Linked DNA regions of Homo sapiens. The protein of the gene in region 1 purifies or fractionates together with the protein of each later gene. This does not show direct contact. Each region holds a gene or a part of one and is shown in the gene's direction. Other genes may lie near its edges.

The links.
Region 2: the proteins of SLC9A7 (region 1) and EMC2 purify together in Homo sapiens (affinity purification with mass spectrometry; one large-scale study listed by BioGRID and IntAct). This does not show direct contact.
Region 3: the proteins of SLC9A7 (region 1) and PNPLA6 purify together in Homo sapiens (affinity purification with mass spectrometry; one large-scale study listed by BioGRID and IntAct). This does not show direct contact.
Region 4: the proteins of SLC9A7 (region 1) and UPK3BL1 purify together in Homo sapiens (affinity purification with mass spectrometry; one large-scale study listed by BioGRID and IntAct). This does not show direct contact.
Region 5: the proteins of SLC9A7 (region 1) and ERLIN1 purify together in Homo sapiens (affinity purification with mass spectrometry; one large-scale study listed by BioGRID and IntAct). This does not show direct contact.
Region 6: the proteins of SLC9A7 (region 1) and VRK2 purify together in Homo sapiens (affinity purification with mass spectrometry; one large-scale study listed by BioGRID and IntAct). This does not show direct contact.
Region 7: the proteins of SLC9A7 (region 1) and ADCK2 purify together in Homo sapiens (affinity purification with mass spectrometry; one large-scale study listed by BioGRID and IntAct). This does not show direct contact.

What each region holds. Positions count from the first base shown.
Region 1 is NC_000023.11:46,598,744-46,602,138, reverse strand, and holds the end of SLC9A7 (sodium/hydrogen exchanger 7), read left to right. Parts: 3' UTR 1-2,888; downstream 2,889-3,395. UniProt on the Homo sapiens protein: Golgi Na(+), K(+)/(H+) antiporter. Mediates the electoneutral influx of Na(+) or K(+) in exchange for H(+). May contribute to the regulation of Golgi apparatus volume and pH.
Region 2 is NC_000008.11:108,446,597-108,450,123, forward strand, and holds part of EMC2 (ER membrane protein complex subunit 2), read left to right. Parts: intron 1-3,226; coding exon 3,227-3,340; intron 3,341-3,527. UniProt on the Homo sapiens protein: Part of the endoplasmic reticulum membrane protein complex (EMC) that enables the energy-independent insertion into endoplasmic reticulum membranes of newly synthesized membrane proteins.
Region 3 is NC_000019.10:7,549,207-7,552,733, forward strand, and holds part of PNPLA6 (patatin-like phospholipase domain-containing protein 6), read left to right. Parts: intron 1-700; coding exon 701-906; intron 907-1,091; coding exon 1,092-1,223; intron 1,224-1,310; coding exon 1,311-1,434; intron 1,435-1,787; coding exon 1,788-1,901; intron 1,902-2,155; coding exon 2,156-2,231; intron 2,232-3,527. UniProt on the Homo sapiens protein: Phospholipase B that deacylates intracellular phosphatidylcholine (PtdCho), generating glycerophosphocholine (GroPtdCho). This deacylation occurs at both sn-2 and sn-1 positions of PtdCho.
Region 4 is NC_000007.14:102,636,509-102,639,802, reverse strand, and holds the end of UPK3BL1 (uroplakin-3b-like protein 1 precursor), read left to right. Parts: intron 1-603; coding exon 604-680; intron 681-968; coding exon 969-1,089; intron 1,090-2,169; coding exon 2,170-2,278; 3' UTR 2,279-2,778; downstream 2,779-3,294.
Region 5 is NC_000010.11:100,149,577-100,152,321, reverse strand, and holds the end of ERLIN1 (erlin-1), read left to right. Parts: coding exon 1-191; 3' UTR 192-2,228; downstream 2,229-2,745. UniProt on the Homo sapiens protein: Component of the ERLIN1/ERLIN2 complex which mediates the endoplasmic reticulum-associated degradation (ERAD) of inositol 1,4,5-trisphosphate receptors (IP3Rs).
Region 6 is NC_000002.12:58,137,279-58,140,805, forward strand, and holds part of VRK2 (serine/threonine-protein kinase VRK2), read left to right. Parts: intron 1-2,387; coding exon 2,388-2,554; intron 2,555-3,527. UniProt on the Homo sapiens protein: Serine/threonine kinase that regulates several signal transduction pathways.
Region 7 is NC_000007.14:140,689,937-140,692,796, forward strand, and holds part of ADCK2 (uncharacterized aarF domain-containing protein kinase 2), read left to right. Parts: intron 1-823; coding exon 824-877; intron 878-2,860. UniProt on the Homo sapiens protein: The function of this protein is not yet clear. It is not known if it has protein kinase activity and what type of substrate it would phosphorylate (Ser, Thr or Tyr).

The sequences.
Region 1 (3,395 bases):
GGGAATAAAGGGAAGGTATTGTCTTAACTGAGCTGCTAACTAATCAAGCATGAAGGTTTCTGGGAAGCTGTTTTGTTTTTTTTTTTTAATTTCACCTGGAATTAAATTAATAGTCCCCTCTGGAGTCAGATTTTCTTTTCCTTCACCTATCCTCATGCCTGAGTCCACACTGGATTCCTCAGAATAAGGGTGGGCCCATTTACTGCTGGAGCAAAGTAGAAGGTTGTGGTCCTTTGCTATCACATGGTGATGGTGGTGGTTTCCGTAGCAGGTAATTAAGGAGATGCACACTTTTGTATAGCCCTGACAGAGAGAAGATGAAAGCTGCTATTCCTTTTAGTACACTTTTTGAGAACTACCAGAAACCTGAACTTTCTCTCCTAGGGAAGAAAATTTGGAATTTAAATAAGGCCACATTTCTTCCTAGGACACAATCACAGGAAGGGCATATGGATCCGAGCATCCAGGGTGGTTACTGGGGTGATCAGACAAATAAGCATTGATGCCTGGAAGGCAGAAATCACACTGCGACATCAAATGTTTCATCAAGCAAACAGCAAGGATCTCTTCAGGCTGTGTTCTCTAGACCCGAAAATGTCCTCTGTGGTTTGGCTGACAAATGGAATCTCTTTAGAAAACATGCAAAAGGGTATCTCAGCTATCCATGAACGATTCGGTCTAGGACAAAGAACTAACAGTTCCTTCCAAAATAGAGGTCTGTTGGTCTGTTTGACGTCATCCCATCATCCTATCTCTCCCTGTCCTTGTCTGCAGTAGAAGTTAATGTAATCATACCAGATGTTTAATGTGAACAAGTAATTTCCAAATGTAGAAACACCACTGATGCACTTAGGGGGAAAAACAGTGGCAGGGTGTTAGAGCATCTCATCAGAGGTGAAAATCACCCACTTGGAAACCTACTGTGCACCCGTTGTGAGTTCTAAGAGTGTATCAGAAAGCTGATTTTACCATCTGTTGTGAAAGATTATCTGCAATGAGGGCTGCTAGAAAGTCAGCCTGCTGATCTCACAAGTATATGACTTCTTATTCCACTTCAAAAGTGGGGAACTTGACAAGTTTCTTGTCTGCCTTTTGATGTTGATTCTATAGATTAATTAGTTCAGGAACAAGTCTTTCATATACATTAGACTGGTATCATTGAGTTCTGAGCTATTCTGTTGTTCTTTAACTGACACTCTGGATTGCCAGTGTCGGCTGCTACATTCTGATACAGTAAGTCAAAGGAATCTAGTGGCCAAGAGTTGTAGTTTAGAAACAACCCATCTGAATACTGCTTTTACCACTTTGATACCTGAAAAGATCATCCCCCTTTCTAAAACCTGAAAACAACATATAGAGAAATACTGTAGAAACCATTGCTAGTGTCTTAACTAGGAAAAGCAAGTAGACTCATCAACAATCCTTTCAAAACAAGACCTAGAGATAAACAGTTTTTTCCAGTGTCAATTTTCATAGACATTTTTAAAAAATTAAACACATCTTGTCACCCAGTGCTAGCAAAAATTGTAAAGAGCAAAACCAAAGTTTTTGATGTTAGTCTTATTTTTGTAAGCAGGGTATACTATAGTCGTGGCCCATATGGAACACACAGGCAGCCGGTTTTCTGCTACCTGAGCCTTGGAGAAGATGAGAAGGAAGGGCTGCCTGCTGTGCTGCCCTTTGAAAAGGTCCAAAGCAGACAGGAGCGCACACAGCAGAAGTCACCTTCTCCTTCTGATGACCACCTTTCAAAAGGCTTAACAGAATCACCAAGTGTCACAGTCAGCTCTTGGCCAGTGGAAAATTGTCTGGGCCTGTATATGTTGGAGGAACTCAGATAGAAAAGGACTTGTAAACAGCATGGAAACCTCAACATCTGCTGTCTCAAGCACTTAAAAAAGGCTACAATTCAGGTGTTACTGGATGACTTAACTGCATGGACATTTAGGGGCTGACTTGTGTTGTGATTATTCCAATTGTGGGCTTTGGAGAAGCAGAGGGATGATTTTCAGTTGTGTGGGTGTTAAGTCTATGGATTGGGAATTTACCACTGAAATTGATCGTTCAAAGTGTGACTTCATAGTAGGGCCAGCTCCTCCTAAGTTGTCCTTTTGTTTTTCACATAAAATACATCTGGTACTTTTTACTTGGAAAGTTGTACTATGTCCATGAAAATGGTTAAATGAGAAGGCCATAAAGATTCATTTAATAGCTGAAAAGCAACTTTTAAAATAGAATAGGACGAATTTAACATGGAATGATGTGACCTTCTAGGGAACTTTTTATAGAGAGCTTACATAGTGTAATTGGGGAGAATTTTGTCTTCTATTTCCATTCAACAGTAGCAAACTGGTGGTTTTATAAAATTAACATTATAGTATGTTATATAAATAAACGTTATATAAAATGACATTAAAGTATAACTGTGAAAAATTAAAGACTTGGCGTTATCCACAACCTTTATGTGCAATAAGGAAAACTGCAGTAGGCCCCCAAAGTGCCGTCTTTCCCTAGCATTTTACTCAATGTTTGCCTTTGTGTATGTTTAGATTGCTATTGTAAAGCTAGCCATGTGTGTTCCTGCCCTTTACTGATATTTAACACATTTTCTCAAAGCTTTTCTTTTTTTAAAAAAACAAAACTCAAAATAAAACAACTAACTGGCTGAGCTAATTTTGTTTTGTATTTTAAAGTAAAGTATCATCTGTTGGTAGAAGGCTGTAGTGTGATACTATTCTTAGTCTGTTTCCCTCACTGAGAGGTTCTTTTCTGGGTGTAAGCTATTCCTCTCCAGCTTTCTTTAGGCCTGGGGTTGGCAAACTACAGCTGGCTCCTGAACCAAGTCCAGCCCACTGCCTTTTTTTGTAAATAAAGTTTTATTGGCATGACTAGGCTCATTCATTTGCTTACTGTCTGTGGCTGCTTTCCTGCTACAATGACAAAGCTGAGGCGTTGCAACAGAGATCATATGGCCCATAAAAAGTAAACAGCTATTTACTATCTGGGCCTTAACAGAAAAAGTTTCTGCCAGCCTCTGATTTAGATGCTTGAAGAAATTCAGTTTTAAAATAGGGCTGGGCACAGTGGCTCACACCTGTAATCCCAGCATTTTGGGAGGCCAAGGCCAAGGTGGGTGGATCACCTGAGGTCAAGAGTTCAGGACCAGCCAGGCCAACATGGTGAAACCCCGTCTCTACTAAAAATACAAAAATTAGCCAGGCATGGTGGCATGCACCTGTAGTCGCAGCTACTCAGGAGGCTGAGGCAGGAGAATCACTTGAACCCAGGAAGTGGAAGTTGTTGCAGTGAGCCAAGATCGTGCCACTGCACTCCAGCCTGGGTGACAGAGCGAGACTCTGTCTCAAAAAACACAAGATGTAAAAATCACAGCAACA
Region 2 (3,527 bases), on another chromosome or scaffold:
ATTAACAGAAGGTGGAATTAACAGAAATGTGAACATTGGGAAGGGAGGCCATATTTTTAGGAAATGAAGATGACTTGATTTTCGGATGCTGTGATTTTGAGGTAATGAGCTATCAAAGGTGAAAACATGTTTTCTTCAAGATGGTTTTATTTTTACAAATAATTTTTTTAGATAAATGTATTTAAGGCATTTCTAAAAGTAGTATGTGGTTAATAGTGCTACAAATGTATTTATTACAGCAGCACTCAAGAGTGTGGCAGGGTCAGCTATGTAAGGTGTATAGCTTAAGGTGTTTATAGGTAAAATGTTGCTTGTTTTGTAAGTTATATTTTCATACACAGTGTTTCTTGTTTTGTGTTCAGCTATTATATTTTAATATGTGACTGTGTGTCAGACTGCCGTTCTTAGAAGTTATGCTTTAAAAAAAGTTCTCTTTCCTATGAGTGTTTTTTCACAATAAGAAACACCTTTTACAAATTAACTCATACTCAATTAAGTATACCTATACATGAATCTTTGAGTGTATGTATAAACTGAAACCAAAGTTGCATTTACAAAGGATTCTAATGAGTATTGCTTCCATTCTGTTCATTTTGTTTCATTCTCCCCCACTGCCCCCCCACCCCCAACAGATGCTGGAAGAAATCCACTGAACCGATTTTATACCCTATTAATGGATTGTAATACACAGTTTGAAAAATACGTCTTCTGGAGCTCTGTGTGCATTAAAATAAATTAACCCTTTCCTTTTTCAAATCAGGTTGCCTTTTCTTTTAGAATAGCTGTTCCCAACAGCCTGCAGCCAATCTGACTAGATACTTTTATGGGACCATGAATAATTTAAAATTTATTATCCTGTAATTATCAACCTTTTAAAAGAATATGCTGGTTTATGTAAATGAATCTGTAAGTGGTATTTCCGAATATATAAAAAAATGAAGTGGAAAAGATACAGGATTGGAGGAAGTAGTTTTGGACTAAAGAAATCATAATTAAGTAGCAGGCATATTTTTCCATCTTTCAGAGGCCACCTCACTGCAGTGACATCTCATGCAAGTTGTCATGGAAGGAATAAACAGAACAATCATAGCGACTCTCTTAACCTTTGACCTTTAGCTCATCTCACAGGATTGCACAGTAGTTAATAAAATGTACAAGCAAGCAGTGAGAAGCTTACTTACATAGTATGTAATAAAATGACCTTGGCTTTGAGGAGCGAGCTTTTTGCAGGAAGGTGAAAGGGTAAAATGAAAGTTTTAAGCCACCTTTGAGGAAAGAGTGAGGGAAGAGCCTTTATTTCTTGTGAGAGGCTGAAACAGTTACCAGATTTTTTTAAAAAATAAAAGTAACTAGAATTTTTGTAGGGCTTCACATTTTATAAAATGCTTTACACGAATTTTCTAGTGTTTGGTGTCCTAAACTCAAGGGCCAAGCAGATGAAAATACATGTAGTTGGGTGAAAGACAATAGTGGTGCCTGTGAAGAACTGGTAAGTGTATACCCTTATCTAAGGGTAATCAAAATCAACTTAAAAACAAAAATATCCAAACTATTGTACGAACCAAGCAACTTTATATATATTTTATGTAATCTTAACTGCTCATCCCTGAGCTAAAGGTAATATTATCTCTATTCATTGGTATTGGAAACTAAGTACAGATTCGGTAAGTTATGTAAGGTCATGTAAAAGATGGAGTTTAGATTCAAACCAAGTGTATCAAGTCCATGTTCTTTCCAGTATACTATACGTCCTCTATGACTGGTGATATGGTTTGGCTCTGTGTCCCCACCCAAATCTCATCTTGTAGCACCCATAATTCCCATGTGTTGAGGAGGAGACCCACTGTGAGATGATTGAATCATGGGGACAGGTCTTTCCCATGCTGTTCTCATTATAGTGAATGGGTCTCACAAGATCTCATGGTTTTAGAAACAGGAGTTTCTCTACACAAGCTCTCTTTCTTTGCCTGCTGCCATCCACGTAGGATATGACTTTTTCCTTCTTGTCTTCTGCCATCATTGTGAGGCCTCCCCAGCCACGTGGAACTGCAAGTCCAGTTAAACCTCTTTCTTTTGTAAATTGCCCAGTCTCGGGTACGTCTTTATCAGCAGTGGGAAAACGGACTAATACAACCAGTTTCTTTTCTTTGAACTGTTTACTCCTTTCCAGTTTATCTTCTGGGGCTTTTTGTTTTGGTTTCAAATTTATTTATTTTTAAAATTGACATATAAAATTTAAAATTCTAGTGGTTTCTTTTTTTTTGCACCAGAATGATTTTCCTGTCAGACAGCCATGATTGTGTTGCTTTTCTTTTGCTCAGCATTTTTAAGTTGTTCTTCTGTACCTTTAAAAACAAACTTTAAAGTTCTCTAGTATGAAATAAAAGTCTTCCAAGAAACTCACTCTTCTTACTTCTTATACACTCATTTCCTGATCCTAGTGTGTTTATTTAATTCCCAGCTACCAGTAGTTCTTTCTGTATAGGATAACTTACTTTGTTATATGCCTGTTGAACTCCTTTTTCAACCTTTAAGAGACAGGGGTCTTGCTCTGTTGCTCAGACTGGAGTGCAGTGGTGCAATCACAGGTCACTGCAGCATCAACCTCCAGGCTCAAGTGATCCTCTCACGTCAGTCTCCTGAGTAGCTGGGACCACAGGCGGGTGCCACCATGCTGCCTTTTTTTTTTTTTTTTGAGACAAAGTCTTGCTTTGTCACTCAAGCTGGAGTGCAGTGGCACGATCTCGGCTCACGCAATCTCTGCCTCCTGGGTTCAAGCGATTCTCCTGCCTCAGCCTCCTGAGTAGCTGGGATTACAGGTGTGTGCCACCATAGTTGGCTAATTTTTGTATATTTAGTAGAGACAAGGTTTCGCCACGTTGGCCAGGCTGGTCTTGAACTCCTGGATCAAGTGATTGTCCTACCTTGGGCTCCCAAAGTCCTGGCATTACTGATGTAAGCCACCGTGCCTGGCCCATTCATCACTTCTAAAGATAGTCATAATACCAGTTGTAATGCTGTTTCAGTCTTCTAAAGGATCTGTTGCCCTTGTTCAATTAATTTTCTACTTTATCAAATTTGAGATACCACAGACTTCTACATGATTGTGAGTTTATTTTCCTTACCTAAAAAGCTGATTTTGTCTTGTCAGGTTTTTGACATCTATCGGATGTGTATGTGTGTGTCTGGGTACATATACACTTAAATGTCATGTTATTTTTTTCAGAAATGAGAGATAAAATGAGAAAATGGAGAGAAGAAAACTCAAGAAATAGTGAGCAAATTGTGGAAGTTGGAGAAGAATTAATTAATGAATATGCTTCTAAGCTGGGAGATGATAGTAAGTTCTTTTATTACATTCAGGCTCAGTACATGCCTCATTCATGGGCCTTTTTTTTTTTTTAACTGTTCTTTCATTCATGATTTTTCTACTTGTCATATTAATTTTCTTTGTGACTTTTTGTCCCAAGAATTTTAATGATAGTTTATTTTGAGAAGGATTTATAATTGCTTGGTAGTAGTAAGCT
Region 3 (3,527 bases), on another chromosome or scaffold:
GACGGAGTCTCGCTCTGTCGCCCACGCTGGAGTGCAGTGGCGCGATCTTGGCTCATTGCAAGCTCCGCCTCCCGGTTTCACGCCATTCTCCTGCCTCAGCCTCCCAAGTAGCTGGGACTACAGGCGCCCGCCACCACACCCGGCTAATTTTTTGTATTTTCAGTAGAGACGGGGTTTCACTGTATTAGCCAGGATGGTCTCGATCTCCTGACCTCTTGATCCGCCTGCCTCGGCCTCCCAAAGTTCTGGGATTACAGGCGTGAGCCACCGCGCCTGGCCTTCTTCTTCTTTTTTTTTTTAAAGACAGTGTCTCACTCTGTCGCCCAGGCTGGAGTGCAATGGCATGATCTCAGCTCACTGCAACCTCAGCCTTCCAGGTTCAGGCAATTCTCTTGCCTCAGCTTCCTGAGTAGCTGGAATTACAGACATGTGCCACGACGCCCAGCTAATTTTTTTATTTTAGTAGAGACAGGTTTCGCCACGTTGGCCAGGCTGGTGCCGAACTCCTGGCCTCAAGTGATCCCCCCTGCCTGGCCTCCCAAAGCGCTGGGATTACAGCCGTGAGCCACCGCGCCCTGCGCCTTCATATTTTTCTTAACCCTTCCTTTCTTCTTTAATTTTTTCCTGTGGGGGCATGTTGACCTGAGCTGGGGTCCACGCTGTCCGGGTTCTGTGTTCATCACATCCCCTGCCCGCACAGGACGTGAGCCTGCACTTCGTGCTCTGGGGCTGCCTGCACGTGTACCAGCGCATGATCGACAAGGCGGAGGACGTGTGCCTGTTCGTAGCGCAGCCCGGGGAACTGGTGGGGCAGCTGGCGGTGCTCACTGGCGAACCTCTCATCTTCACACTGCGAGCCCAACGCGACTGCACCTTCCTGCGGATCTCCAAGTCCGACTTCTATGAGTATGACAGCCCGAAGTTGGAGTGTGGGTGGCACTCGGAGGACCCCAACCCGTGGGAGTGGCCAGAACCCCATCCCTCAACCTCACTCCTGGAAGAGCAGAAGGGAGCCCCCAGATCTGGCCTCCCAGCGCCGGTGTAGGACGGTTTTGAGGCCTTCCTCTTTCATCCCAAGTCTGTTCCTGCAGGATCATGCGCGCACAGCCCAGTGTGGTGCTGAGTGCGGCGCACACGGTGGCAGCCAGGATGTCGCCCTTCGTGCGCCAGATGGACTTCGCCATCGACTGGACTGCAGTGGAGGCGGGACGCGCGCTGTACAGGTGCAGCTCCCACCGCGCTGCTCAGGCCCGGCCTAGGGGTGGGGACCTGGGGGTGGTCAGACCTTGCTGACCTCCACGCCCACTCAGGCAGGGCGACCGCTCCGACTGCACTTACATCGTGCTCAATGGGCGGCTGCGTAGCGTGATCCAGCGAGGCAGTGGCAAGAAGGAGCTGGTGGGCGAGTACGGCCGCGGCGACCTCATCGGCGTGGTGAGCGCGACCCCCACCCACTGACCTCTGGCCTTTTCCAGGCCAGTCCCTCGACAACTCACACACATCATCCCGGGTAATCCAGGGAGTGGTGAATGCAGCTCCCGACCTCTGAGGTCACCCAGTCCACTCCCCGCCCAGACCTCATTTCGTTGGAAAAAGGGGATTCCGCCTGTCGTGGATCCCTGTCCTCTCCCTCTCCCCAGAGCTCTAATGGGTAGCGAGCGAGGCTTGCTTCCCTACACCCCCATTGCAGGGGAGCCCTAGATGGGGCAGTACAGCCCCCTTTCCACCCATCTTCGGCCTCCTCATTCCCCACCCAAGCAGCCCCAATCATGCACGCGGCCCCCCAGGTGGAGGCACTGACCCGGCAGCCGCGAGCCACGACGGTGCACGCGGTGCGCGACACGGAGCTGGCCAAGCTTCCCGAGGGCACCTTGGGTCACATCAAACGCCGGTACCCGCAGGTGCGGCCTGTTGTGGGCGGGGCAGAGAGGCGGAGGCGGGACTCCGGGGGGGTGGGGGCCGGGCCTAGTGTGTGGGCGGGGCTTACAGAGGGGCGGGGTCGAGGGAGGGGCCGAAGCGAGAGAGTGAGGGCGGGGGCTCTCGGGGGTGGGACCCAGGTAACGGGCACCCAGGAGCCCCGGCATAGGAGGGAGAGGTGGGACCTGGACAGCCGCTTCCCAGGTCTCACTGAAATGCCGGCCTCCAACGCCCCCAGGTCGTGACCCGCCTTATCCACCTACTGAGCCAGAAAATTCTAGGGAATTTGCAGCAGCTGCAAGGACCCTTCCCAGGTGAGAGCCGGCCGGCCCAGAGCGTGCTGGGAGATGTAGTCCGGCGTCCAGAGCATGCTGGGAGGGAAGCCTTCTTTCCTGAGGGATGCTGGGAAATGGAGTTCCGCGAAGAAATCGTGCCCCTGAGGGTTTCAAACCCTAAGTAGGACCCAGGTGCAGAGCATTCTGGGGAATGGAGTTCGTGTTCCTGAGCATGCTGGGAAACGAAGTCCTCGACCCCTGGCGTGCTAGTTAATGGGCTCGAAAGTAAATCAGTGGTGCCGGGGAGGGAGTCTTAGGCGGTGGACTTGGCGTAGTCTGCCCGGGAGTCAGGGCTTGCTGGGGAAGTCCACGGCCTGGACGTTGAGAGAAAGGGAGTCCTAGATCAGAATATGATGGCAGGGCCGTCATGGTGGCTCATGCCTGTAATCTCAGCACTTTGGGAGGCTGAGGCAGGAGGATCGCTTGAGCCCAGGAGATTGAGTTTGAAACCAGCCTGGGCAACATAGTAGGACCCCCGTCTCTACAAAAATTTCAAACATTAGCTGGGCTTGGTGACACATGCCTGTAGTCTCAGCCACTCAGGAGGCTGAGGCGGGAGGATTGATTGCTTGAGCCCGGAGGTCGAGGCTGCAGTGAGCCGTGATCGTGCCACTGTACTCCAGCCGGGATGACAGAGCTAGAACCTGTTTCAGAAAAAATAAAACAGCAAACAAACAAAACTCCCCATACCATGATGGAAAATAGTCTGTGGATTGTTGTTTAGGACTCTGGGCACCTCGCCTTCTGAAGTTACAGCTTGCTGGGAGATGTAGCCCCCTGTTTCAGCCTGTGGCTTCAGTGAGCTAGAACAGAATGGGGCGTGCGGTGGGGTTGGAGGCCTGCTGAAATGAGGGCCTGAGTTTCTACATTGTGGTGGCCAGATTCTGGGCCAGCCCAGCAACCTAGATACCCCTTTTCCCTCCAGGGGTTCTACCCAATTGGCCCTGAGCCCTAGATCCCCCAAGGCGGGGGCAGGGCGGTAGTGGCAGAAAAGACATCATTAAGAAATTACAGAGGCCTGGGGCGGTGGGTCACGCCTGTAATCTCAGCACTTTGTGAGGCTGAGGCAGGTGAATCACTTGAGGTCAGGGGTTCGAGACCAGCCTGGCCAACGTGGTGAAACTCATCTCTACTAAAAGTACAAAAATTAGTCGGGTGTGGTGGTGGGTGCCTGTAATCCCAGCTACTTGGACGGCTGAGGCAGGAGAATCGCTTGAACCGGGGAGGCAGAGGTTGCAGTGAGCCGAGCCTACGCCATTGCACTCCAGCCTGGGC
Region 4 (3,294 bases), on another chromosome or scaffold:
TTTTTGTATTTTTAGTAGAGACAGGGTTTCGCCATGTTGGCCAGGTACCTGCCACCATGCCTGGCTAATTTTTGTAATTTTAGTAGAGATGAGGTTTCACCATGTTGGCCAGGCGGGTCTCAACTCCTGGCTTCAAGTGATCTTGAAGGCCCACCTTGGCCTCCCAAAGTGCTGGGATTACAGACGTGAGCCACCATGCCTGGCCTATCCTGCTTTTCTTGAGCAGAAGGTTCCCCACCTCAAGCCCCAGTCCCCACAGGCTGTGTGGACCACTCAGGTGGCGTCTCTCCATCCAGACAGGGTCTCCCCTCACTAAATGCTTGATTCACGCATGTTCAGTTCTGAGACATCTAATACTCGCCCTCTACCTTTCCCAAATGAGGACACAGAAGCCCAGAGAGGGGGAGGGACGTCACACCACTGGAAATGTCACACCTAGATTTGAACCCATTCTGTTGGGCTCTTTCGCCCCAGCCTCCGGCCCCCTCCCCGGGCTGCTCTCGCCAGGGCCTGGGACTCCAGGGGACAGACTTGCAGGCACCAAGTCTGATGGTTTCAGGACTCCGGGGGACCCCCATGTCCAATGCTGGGTCTCCCATTCAGGGTGAAGTTCCTGGTGATGAATGACGAAGGACCCGTGGCTGAAACCAAGTGGTCCAGCGACACTCGCCTGCAGCAAGGTAGGGGCCAGAGGCTCCGGTCAAACAGTAGGGGCAGGGGGCTGGGGCCTGGGGGTCCTGAGGACTGAGGATGGGCTGGGGGAACAGGTCAGCTCACCACTGAGTCAGAGGCAGCCAACCATCTTGCAATCTGCAGGCGCCCCTCCCCCAGCCACCCCCTTCCCCCAGGCCTGGGTGGTAGTAGGGGAGGCAGGGCGGTGATTGGTCTGGATTCTGCCCAAGGGCCCCTTCCGGTCAGGTAAAATTTCTTTTCCTGCCCGCCTGTGCGGCCCCCATCACTGCCCTCAGCCCAGGCACTTCGGGCTGTCCCCGGCCCCCAGAGCCCGGGCACCGTGGTCATCATCGCCATCCTGTCTATCCTCCTGGCCGTCCTCCTCACGGTCCTCCTGGCTGTGCTCATATACACCTGGTGAGTGGACCGGGCTGAGACCGCCCATGCCTCTTGGGAGGGGCGGGGCCCTTGGGCATTAACCCCTCCCTCTCTAGTTCCTCCCCGCCCGCCCCTGCCCACCTTCCAAGCGGGCACTGTGCACCCCCTGGTGGCAGCATCTGGGATTGCAAGTGGGTGCCGCCTGCGGACACCCCAGTCGGGGAGGCGCCCAAGGAGGAGGTGAATTGCTTTCACACCAAGCTCTGAGCATTGCCTCAAGACGCCATACAGGCCGGGTGCGGTGGCTCACGCCTGTAATCCCAGCACTTTGGGAGGCTGAGGCCCGCAGATCACCTGAGGTCAGGAGTTCAAGACCGGCCTGGCCAACATAGTGAAACCCCAGCTCTACTAAAAATACAAAAAATTAGCCGGGTGTGGTGGCACGTGCTTGTAATCCCAGCTACTCAGGAGGCTGAGGAAGGAGAATGGCTTGAACCTGGGAGGTGGAGGTTGCAGTGAGCTGAGATTGCATCACTGCACTCCAACCTGGGTGACAGAGTGAGACTCCATTTAAAAAAAAAAAGGGGGGGGTGTCAGGATTTCATACAGAGCTCAGGTGCCTGAGCCTGGGGCACAGAGAGTGTCCACAAGGCTTCCTAGAGAAAAGGGGAGACCTAGCCCTGTTGGGATTTGGGGAGGAGGGGGAGAGGGAGTGACTAAAAAGGGGGTGGGGAGGTGTGGGGGCAGGAGGGGCAGGAGGGGTGCATGCAGCCAGGCCAGGCCAGGGGCCCCAGGTGCCTAGCTGAGGAACTGGGCTGTATCCTGCAGCCTATGGGAGCCGGGAGTGGGTTTTGATCAGGGGAGACAGGCAGATAATGTTTGAGCGGGGTCCTGAGGTGTGGAGGGTGGAGGGGGAGAGTGATGGGGAGCAGGAGCAATGAGCTAGATTTGTGAGGTTTGAAGGAATCGCCTCAGTCCCTTTGGTTAATTCTGCCCAGCCAGTGGAGTCTCAGTTTCCCCTATGCGATGGGTCAGAGCATGCTAGCCAATGGCTGTGGGATCTCGGCCAGAGCCTTTCTTCAGCATCCATCATCTCTCCCTCTCTCCTCCCCTCCCAAGCTTCAACAGCTGCAGGAGCACTTCCCTATCAGGCCCAGAGGAGGCAGGGAGTGTGAGAAGATACACCACGCACCTCGCGTTCAGCACTCCTGCCGAGGGGGCTTCCTGAGGGGTTCCAGAGGGGCCCACGTGTCCCTCCACCTCCTCCCTGGCCCAGGCTGCAGAGCCTGAGCTGGGACACGCCCTGAAGCTTCTGGACCCTGAGAGAGATTGTTTCTTTTCTTTACTATTTTTTTTTTTTTTTTTTTGAGACGGAGTCTCACTCTGTCGCCAGGCTGGCGCGATCTTGGCTCACTGCAACCTCTGCCTCACGGGTTCAAGCGATTTTCCTGCTTCAGCCTCCTGAGTAGCTGGGACTACAGGCACACGCCACCATGCCCAGCTCATTTTTGTATTTTTAGTAGAGATGGGGTTTCACCATGTTGGCCAGGATGGCCTCCATCTCTTGACCTTGTGATCCGCCCGACTCGGCCTCCCAAAATGCTGGGATTACAGGCGTGAGCCATCAAGTCTGGCGAGAGAGATTGTTTCTAGATGAGGGTGGGGGCGGGTGTCCTTAGCCCAAAGCTTGTGCCAGTCTCTATCGGAAATAAATGCCCCCAAAACCTCCCTGCCTGTCCGTGACATCATACACCTGGGTAGTCTTTCTGCACCACTGCCCCTGGCTCCTCCTCCTGAGGAGGTCCCCAAGGGCGTGTAGGACCAGGGCAAGGCTCAGGATCCTAGAGAAATTGTCACCTGGGGCAGGACAGGCCTCTCTGCCAGCCTTACTGTCCCTATCTGTAAAATGAGGATGGTAACCCTGAACCCACAAGGCCACAGTAAGGCTAAACCAAGGTGAACATGCCTTGGGAACTGTGAAGACTGTGGACCCAAAGCCGGTTGCGGTGGCTCAGGCCTGTAATCCCAGCACTTTGGGAGGCTGAGGCAGGAGGATCACTTGAGCCCAGGAGTTCGAGACCAGCCTGGGCAACATGGTGAAACCCCATCTCTACAAAAATGACAAAAAATTAGCTGGGCTTGTTGGCGGACTGTGGACCTGAGATAGGTGCTCCTCTTGTCCTGCCCAGACAGCCTCCTGGTAACCAAAGGCCACGGGGCAGCATGGCTGGCACTTGCTATCTT
Region 5 (2,745 bases), on another chromosome or scaffold:
AAAAGTACCAGGCCATTGCTTCTAACAGTAAGATCTATTTTGGCAGCAACATCCCTAACATGTTCGTGGACTCCTCATGTGCTTTGAAATATTCAGATATTAGGACTGGAAGAGAAAGCTCACTCCCCTCTAAGGAGGCTCTTGAACCCTCTGGAGAGAACGTCATCCAAAACAAAGAGAGCACAGGTTGATGCAAGAGGTGGAAATGTTCTCCATATCAAGATGTGGCCCAAGGGGTTAAGTGGGAACAATCATTATACGGACTCTTCAGATTTACAGAGAACTTACACTTCATCTGTTCCACCTCTCCTGCGATAGTCCTGGGTGCTCCACTGATTGGAGGATAGAGCCAGCTGTCTGACACACAAATGGTCTTTTCAGCCACAGTCTTATCAAGTATCCTATATGTATTCCTTTCTAAACTGCTACTCATGAATGAGGAAAGTCTGATGCTAAGATACTGCCTGCACTGGAATGTTAAACACTAAATATATAACAAGCTGTGTTTTCCTAAGCTGAGATCTGTTGAATAATGTTTACATTCGTCCCCCGGGGAAATGTATGCTCAGCCACCATTCAAGAGATGACTGAGAAGGAGATGGTAAGTTCAAGAAGACTGATTGCACCTGGGACCCAGGCCCTTTCTTTGGGATCCAGTCCCAGCCTTCATCCATGTGATTAAGATCCAGGCCGCTGAAGTTCCCCAGGAAATGATCTTCCACTTGAGCAACCTTTTACTTGATACGATTTGCACCTTTCTGTTTTCCTGCAGTCAGGGTGGTGGCCTGCAGGGACCTGAGCTTTGCTACCCAACCAGATTCCTCATAGAGATTCCTAATCACTAGTTTCTTGTATTCATAAACTCAGAGATACAGAGGGCTTGGTTTGAAGTTGGGGTGAGATGAAACCTTTGCTCTGAGCCAAAGCTCTGGGGCCTTGCATTCCCTGCATTGGGTTGATGACTGTCAGCATCACTGCCGCAGGCCATGCTTGACTAAGGTACCTGGTTTTAGCCACAGCCACCTCCTTGTATGTTACCTTTCAGCTCTGGCCAAGAGTGGGACAGGGTTTTAACCACAAATAGGAGCAGCATGCAATTCCTAGTGACTTGCTGCACAGTATTGTATCATAATTACAGGAAGTTTTTATTTTTAAAACTGGATCTGGGGTATATTCATTTGCCCCATCACCTCTGTCTAAAGGCCCAAGTCCTAGGGCTGCCATGGTCACAAGCACACTGATGCTCCTTAAGATTGTTTATCTGGAGCCCACATAGTGTGGAACAAAAAGTCACCTAGAAAGCATCCTTGGTCATCATTGTCTCCTTCCCACCTGGCCCAGAGATGCTTAAATCCAAGTTGTTTCTCCAGCTGTCACCTCCCCCAGGAGATCAGGATTCCACTGACGTCCTGGGCAGCCAGTGAATTTAATTTTCCATGAGAAACAACAGAGTTAACCTGTGGCATTAGGAGACCTACTTCATGTGGACCCTTTTTTTCCTTCAGTTTAACTTTTCTGGAGCAGTGTGCTGCGTAGTTCGGCCTGAGTTTGTGCAGCTTGTTAAGACAACTCTTGTGTACGCTATGTTGAAGCTCAACAAAAAAGTCATGGGACCACTTCTAGAAATCTTTCAGCTGTCAGGCCTGTCAGTCTCATGACAGTTTGTTGGTTGTGCCAAACACTTTATTTGGGAAAGGAAAGCCCAGATTTGAATGGGTCTTTCCCCTGGGCCTTATCCTATAGAGGCATTTGTAATATGGAGAAAATAATTTTTCATTTTTGCTCATTTAATTCTATAAATTCTCTTTATAAATGAATTTTGTGTTCTTTAGTTCTCCTTAAAAGAACTTTTGAATTATAAAAATAAAATCTTTACCTGTCGAATTGTTGCTGCAGATGATTGTTGTGGAAAATCTGGATCATTGACCTCTGTGCTTTCATTCCTAGAGATGTTTTATAGTTACATGAGCAAAAGCTGTTGCCCCAAAGTGATGGCCCTGGAGGCGGGGCTGAGGAACAGGGAAATGCCGCTGTGAAGTCTTAAAGCACTTCTGCTTAAACTCCCATGTGTGAGGAGTGTGCCTCCCTGTGCCCTCTCAGCTCTGAGGCTGGCCGTCTTTCGGGGTGTTCCTTTTGGCAAATATACACTGTAATCTTGAGTCTAAATTTATATGTTGAAATGCTACCTTTTTTAAAATAAGAAACTAAATAAAATTATTTTACTATCAGTGATTTGTGTTTTTTTTTCCCACGTCTTCATTTTTCTGTCATCTTAACATGCTCCTAAGGCTGTCTTGCACATTTCAACTAGGGAGCCAGTTTATTTGCGGGTTTAACTTAACTGTAGAGGCTTTTGTTATACTCTTGCCAGAATACTGCCTACCTGGTATAAGAATGTTTAAAACAAGGTGTCCACTCTTTGCTGACTCCTGGAATTTAACAAGGGGTGTTCTTCTAATCCTTTGTGGGACAGGGCCTGTGGCAGAGGGGCAAGGAGGGAGGATGGAGCATCAGGCCACTGGGATCCGTCCCTGAGAGCAAAAGTACTTCTGCACTGAGGAGGGGAGGAGACAGACCAAGCCAGAGAAGGACAATTTGTGTAAATTATAACTGGTAATGTAATGGCACAATATAACCAACTTGACTATTAAGATGTTAGCGGCCCAAGAGCCAGAGTTGGACCTGCTCTTCCCAAACGTTCTGTATTTCCTCCTGGGATCAATTTCCTGGTGATCTTGGGCCAGC
Region 6 (3,527 bases), on another chromosome or scaffold:
ATATATCTCTTACCTTTCTTGTCAATCCTGCAGAAAAAGGAACTGTTCAGTTTAGGGTAAGAAAGCCCAGATGCCCTGAATTGTACAAGACAAATGCTTGTGGGCAGTGTATATTATGTCATACTCTATTGTTAAAGATTTGAGTCAGATGAGTAATCTAGATGGGAGACAAGCCCAGTTTTTGTTTCTTAGCACAAACCATTTTATTGAATCCATACTATTATTTATAAAATGCAGATTTCTGTTTCTAAAGCAAAAAGTGTTGAAACTTTAATATTACATGAAGGTCTCTTAAATTAGGAGGTTGTGCTTAGGAAGAACACAACCATGAAAATGAAGGAACTGATTTACAAAAGTTTATTACCGAAACATTTTATGAAATAAAACAGCCAGAAGTTTGCAGCATACATGTCCAACTAAGCATAATAATAATAGTTTCAAAAGTTTCTATCTCTTGATAGTAATGATACTTAATACTTCACTGGCTTAAAAAGCAGATGATTAAAAAAATCATAATTTCATACTAAAGGCATTTTGCTTTATAGTTCTGGCAATATGCTAGTAAATTTTAAAATGTACTTAATAAATCCAGATCTTGAAAGACTAACATTTAAACCAGTATTACATCACAATATCTACGCTTCAGGTTTGTAATAATAAATTTATAATGGAAATGGCTCTTTTTATTTTCTCCCCCTCCTACCTCACTGGTACCTCATTTTTCCAAACCCCAGTCCCATGAAGGCTTTGCAGCACAGCTGCTATCAGTTGGTGGAGTGCCAGGAGTTTTCCATTGTCTTGTAACAGTGATTTGTTCCCAGCACATTCAACTCTCTTCCTCATTTTGGATATTCTGGTTAATGGAATTGTAATATGTACCAAACTTGGCTTACCAATCTTCACAGGACCATAAAACAAAAATATTTATATTAAAATAGTAGTGAATGTAATTTAATTTTTTAATCATCCCTTTAGAAATTGGATACCCCCGAGCCCTTGTGAAGGGGCTGCATGAAGCATCAGTTATAAATATGGTGATAAAATAGCAGCACTTGCTAGTTAACAGAGATCTGGTTGACCGAATGCTAGATAACAGAATTTGATAAAAATAGATGAAAAAAACAGGTTGCATAATTGCTACAGTGTCAAGGAAGAAAAGCCCAGAACCAAGAGTTTACATTTTAACCACGTTAGCTTCATGTTCCCAGGAAATAGCTCTGTACTATATGGTGAAAGTGGTCACTCTTAACTTTAATAGGGGGAAAGCGATGATGACTATTCCTTTTGAAATTTTTCTCTATAGGGAGTGAAACCCAGTGCCTCTGCAGTTTTCCTTTCTTTTGAGTGGAGGTAGGCCTAGAGGGGAAGTGAAGGATTAGGAAGTCACTCCTGCCAACGCATGAAGTTTCCCAGGTTTTCCCACCATGGATATAAGCAACTAAGTGAGAAAGTAAGAAGTACTTGAGTTTGAGTCAGTAATATATTTTTGAAAGGGAAAGGCATATCTAAACATCTCTGTGAACAAATGAAAACATGCCAGTTTTTAAATAGTATTTGGTATTATCACCACTTCTATTCCAATTTTAGGTTGAACCTCAACATGAAACAGAAATGCAAGCTACAAATATTTTAATGCAGTGATGTTTGTAACTGTTGGTTACTAATTCTGTTTGTATTTAAAAGTTGGTAGTTCCTAACCTTTTTGGGGAAAGGGGGTTTACTATGTAGTTCTAGGGGAACATTTCTTTACACTAGAGAAAAAATAAAAGATGGCAACTCCTCCTCCCACTGCTCTAAAATCAAAAACACGAGGCTGTGTACCAGGCTAGCTAGGTATGGAGGACATGAGGGAGGTTTCATACATTCTAAATTCAATCTTAGCTAACAACATGGAATTCAAGGTCCTTTCTAAATATACGGTTATAATCCCAAAATCAAAGCCTTAATTAAAATTTGCAGTTTTTTTCCTTAGAAATAAAGAGGTTTATAATAAGTAACACTTTAACTGAATTTTTAGAAGTTCAGCATAAAGTGTGAAGTATGGTCAGTTGTATTATTTATGTAGTCCTTAATAGTTGCACCTCATAAATCAAAATCACTATAATTATTACAATATACTTCCTCTCATAAGATCAGTGAATTATAAGCGTATCAACAAAAATATGTTAAAAACATTACTAGTTTGTCTCATCAATTCTGTAGGTCACTATATTTCAGTCATTTTTGAATATCATTTAAAAAGTTATTTTCATTGAATTGTTCATTTTTAGTTTCTTCAGGAGATGTAAATGTGTAAAAGACAAAGATAACAAAGATTTTGAGATTACTGGAGTCTTGACAATTCTTGCCAATTGTGAATGACATGTAAAAAATTTAATAATTCACAGGTGAAATAGCCCAATTTTTGGTATGTGCTCATAGTTTAGCATATGATGAAAAGCCAAACTATCAAGCCCTCAAGAAAATTTTGAACCCTCATGGAATACCTTTAGGACCACTGGACTTTTCCACAAAAGGACAGAGTATAAATGTCCATACTCCAAACAGTCAAAAAGTAAGTAACATAATCCCTGCTATCCTATGATTACCTTCTATGATACTTTTCTATCGAATGAAATTGTTTTAGGTCTCAAAATGAGTCTGACAGCTTTCTTCTTCCTTATATTTAACTCCCATTTTGCCTAACTCAGCACCAAGAAAGTTTGTTCCAAGTTCTTTTGACCTGTTGTCTCACAGAGAAAAATAGGATCTGTGGCCTACTATGTACTATGAAAGAAAGCAGTCACTACTGTCATAGAGATGTGACTAGGGTAAAGGCTAATCTGATGTTACTCATGAGAAAGCCATCATTTGCTTCTTTTCTCCAGGTTTTCTTTAGATATTGCCCTGTGTTTTTGCCTACCAATTTGGCCATAATTTGGTGATAACAGTCTTCGATTTAACCAGGTTATTTGTATGTGCTGATATTTCAATCCATGGAAACAGTTCTTTACAGAAAATAAAAGAGTTTATGCCAGAGATCTAGGTTAAAAAAAATCATTTTTTAAAAGTTACACCTCTTCTTTTAGTCTGCCATCTTCCCAAAGACCAACACCAACTTAAAAAAAAAATTAAGATTTCGAGCATTTTTAAGCGGGTGGTGGAAATCTTAGACTGCCGTTATTAGCAAGAATAGTGGACAGGCAACTCAGCATCCATGTCTTCCTTGACCACTATCCGTATGCACAAATAGAGTGTGGAGGGCATTTTTTTCCTGATGCATGTACAGTAAGATAGGGTCAGGATGCTATTCATTTTTAATATTTCTTATGAACTTTGGATCATCACACGTGTTCATGAGCCAAGAATGCGGGATGCAAACTAATGTGACTGATAGGCTGCTAGATGAATGGTGAGTCAAGTATCAGTGCACAGATGGTTCTGATTTGCTGAATTTTGTAGTTGCTGCAACTGAAGACATAAAATATCCTTCTAGTCATAAATTAGCTCTTTGGAAGCAAAACCTTGGCACCAGAGCTTTACAACCT
Region 7 (2,860 bases), on another chromosome or scaffold:
CTCCTTCCTCATCCAGGGGTCGCTGTTCATTTGGGGACAGCCAAGCATACAGGGAGGGAGGACTGTGGTCTCCAAGCAGCCAAATGATGTGCCCAATGCGCATGTCCCTTATTTAAACCCAAGCCAGAGCCTGCTTTGTATTTTATACACAGTTCTAGCAAATGTGACTGTTTTATCCCCAAGTTCATGGCCACATTAGCAGGAATGGGTCAGACAAGGAGTGGCCACTGGCACGCTGGCCCTGCTGATAGTCTATCCAGGTGTGATTTTTTAAAAATTTTTTTGAGATGGAGTCTTGCTGTATCACCCAGGTTGGAGTGTAGTGATGCTGTCTCGGCTCACTGCAACTTCCACCTCCCGGATTCAAGCGATTCTCCTGCCTCAGCCTCCCGAGTAGCTGGGATTACAGGCACCCGCCACCACACCCGGCTAATTTTTATATTTCTAGTAGAAATGGGGTTTCACCATGTTGGCCAGGCTGGTCTCGAACTCCTGACCTCAAGTGATCCGCCCGCCTTGGCCTCCCAAAGTGCTAGGATTATAGGCAGGTGTGATTTTTGTGGTTGCTTCAGGGATGGGGTGGGTGGGGCTCAAAGGCTTGTCTTCCAAAGGCCTCTGTGACCGAGTCTTGAGGTGGAGTTGGGCTTGTGCTGGAGGAGTCCTTTCAGAGTTTGTCAGATGGTCCCTTTTGTGCTGACTGGTGTATGTGTGCCCTGGCGGGGGAGTGGGGTGGGATGCTGGGGCTGAGAGTGTGGGGGTGGTGGGAAATGAGCGGTTCTGGAAGGCTCGGTGGTCTGCATTAGCCTTTATTTTGTTTTTCCAGCTTCATGTGTCCAGCCTTCTCTCTAGTGTCTTTAAGTTGCTGATGACTCACAAGGTGAGGGCCATTCAGAGGGGAGGTCTCTGGGGAAGGTGGGACGGGGCAGGGAGGAATGGGAGGACACAGGGTGGTGGGAGGCGCTTCTATTATATGGTTCTTGTTTTTTGTTGTTGTTTTTCTTTTTTTTGAGACAGAGTCTCACTCTGTCGCCCAGGGTGGAGTGCAGTGGCGCGATCTCGGCTGACTGCAGCCTCTGCTTCCTGGCTTCCAGTGATTCTCTTGCCTCAGTCTCCTGAGTAGCTGGGATTACAGGCTCCCACCACCACGCCTGGCTAATTTTTGTATTTTTAGTAGAGACGGGATTTCACCATGTTGGCCAGGCTGATCTCGAACTCCTGACCTCAGGTGATCCACCCTTCTCGGCCTCCCAAAGTGCTGGGATTACAGGCGTGAGCCACTGTGCCCGGCCTATTATATATTTTGAAAGCATTTTTAGTAACAAGCCATTTGCAACAAGTGCTTCGTAGCTGTTAGTCTATCTGTCAAGTCAGTGCAGTCTAAGTATCTGTGACATTTAAATGTAGAAAAGTGTATTTAAAAATGTAGAAACAGCCTACCTCTGGCTTTTCATGTCTTTCCCTCCTTGGTTCACTTTCATGATGCTTGTGTTAATGTAAGTCATGCTTAGCTCTTTCCTGGTGGAATGAAGTCCTGGGGTCCAGAGGCCGCTCTAGAGGGTCATGCCTTGTGTCCTGGTGCTTTCAGAGGCCCTAGCGGGACTGCTGTGGCCCCTGCCTGGCTGCTGTAGTCCATTAGAGGGAGCTGGCCTCATGGTTCATCTTAGCCTGTGCCCCGGCTCTGTCGCCTTGTCATGGAGCCTAGTCTCCGGCACTCTTTAAACTAAGGCTGCTGGCCAGGGACAAGCAGTGTTGAAGGTGGAGAAGGGAGGACCTCGTTGGAAGATGGCCTTTTCCATTGCATTACTTAACTATATGACATCTATTAGTAACCAATTTATCCCCTCAGTCTTCCAAGAGGCAGGCACCAAAGCCGAGAGGCCGAGCAGCTCACCTGTGGCCATGTGGGCAAGCCCCCGCCTGCTGCTGGGTCCTCCCGCCTCCGTGGCTCACTCTGAGCATCTGCTCCCCACACAGTTTCCAGCACGGTGGGTGAGGGGCCTTGAGTGTTTGCTGCTGCTGCTGCTGTTCCCAGGATGGAAGAGGAGACAGAGGGCCTAGGGCAGCTACTGCACTCCAAGCACTTCACTAGGCACTTAAGTTTGAAAACATTTACAAATTTTTCATTGTGATGAAAAACACATAAAATTTAACCCCCCAACCCTCTCCAGATGCATAGTGTTAGCATTGTGCAACAGATCTCTAGGTCTTTCTCATTTGGCAGAGCTGAAACTCTACAGCCATTGACCAGCTCCCCATTCCCCTCTCCATCCGGCCCTGGGAACCACCATGCTGTTTTACGTTTCCATGATTTTGGCTACTCTTGATATTTCATATAAGTGGAATTATAAAGTATACTGTCCTTTTGTGATTGGCTTGTTTTACTCAATATAATGTCCCCAGGTTTCATCCATGTTGTAACATGTGACAGGATTTCCTTTTGAGACAGGGTCTCACTGTGTCACCGAGGCTGGAGTGCAGTGGTGCAAGCTTGGCTCATTGCAACCTCTGCTTCCTGGGTTCAAGCAATTCTCGTGCCTCAGCCTCCCAAGTAACTGGGATTACAGGCAAGTGCCACCATGCCCAGCTAATTTTTGTATTTTTAGTAAGAGATAGGGTTTCGTCATGTTGGCCAGGCTGGTCTCGAACTCCTGACCTCAAGTGATCCACCTGCCTTGGCCTCCCGAAGTGCTGCGATGACAGGCGTGAGCCACCGCGCTTGGCCTGTTATTCTGTTGATGCTGTTGATGTTCACGTGGGTTGCTTCCACTTCTTGGTTATAGTGAATAATGCTGCAGTGAACATGAATGTGTAAATATCTTTTCAAGATCCTACTTTCAAATTTTAGAAAAGTTTTAAAAAC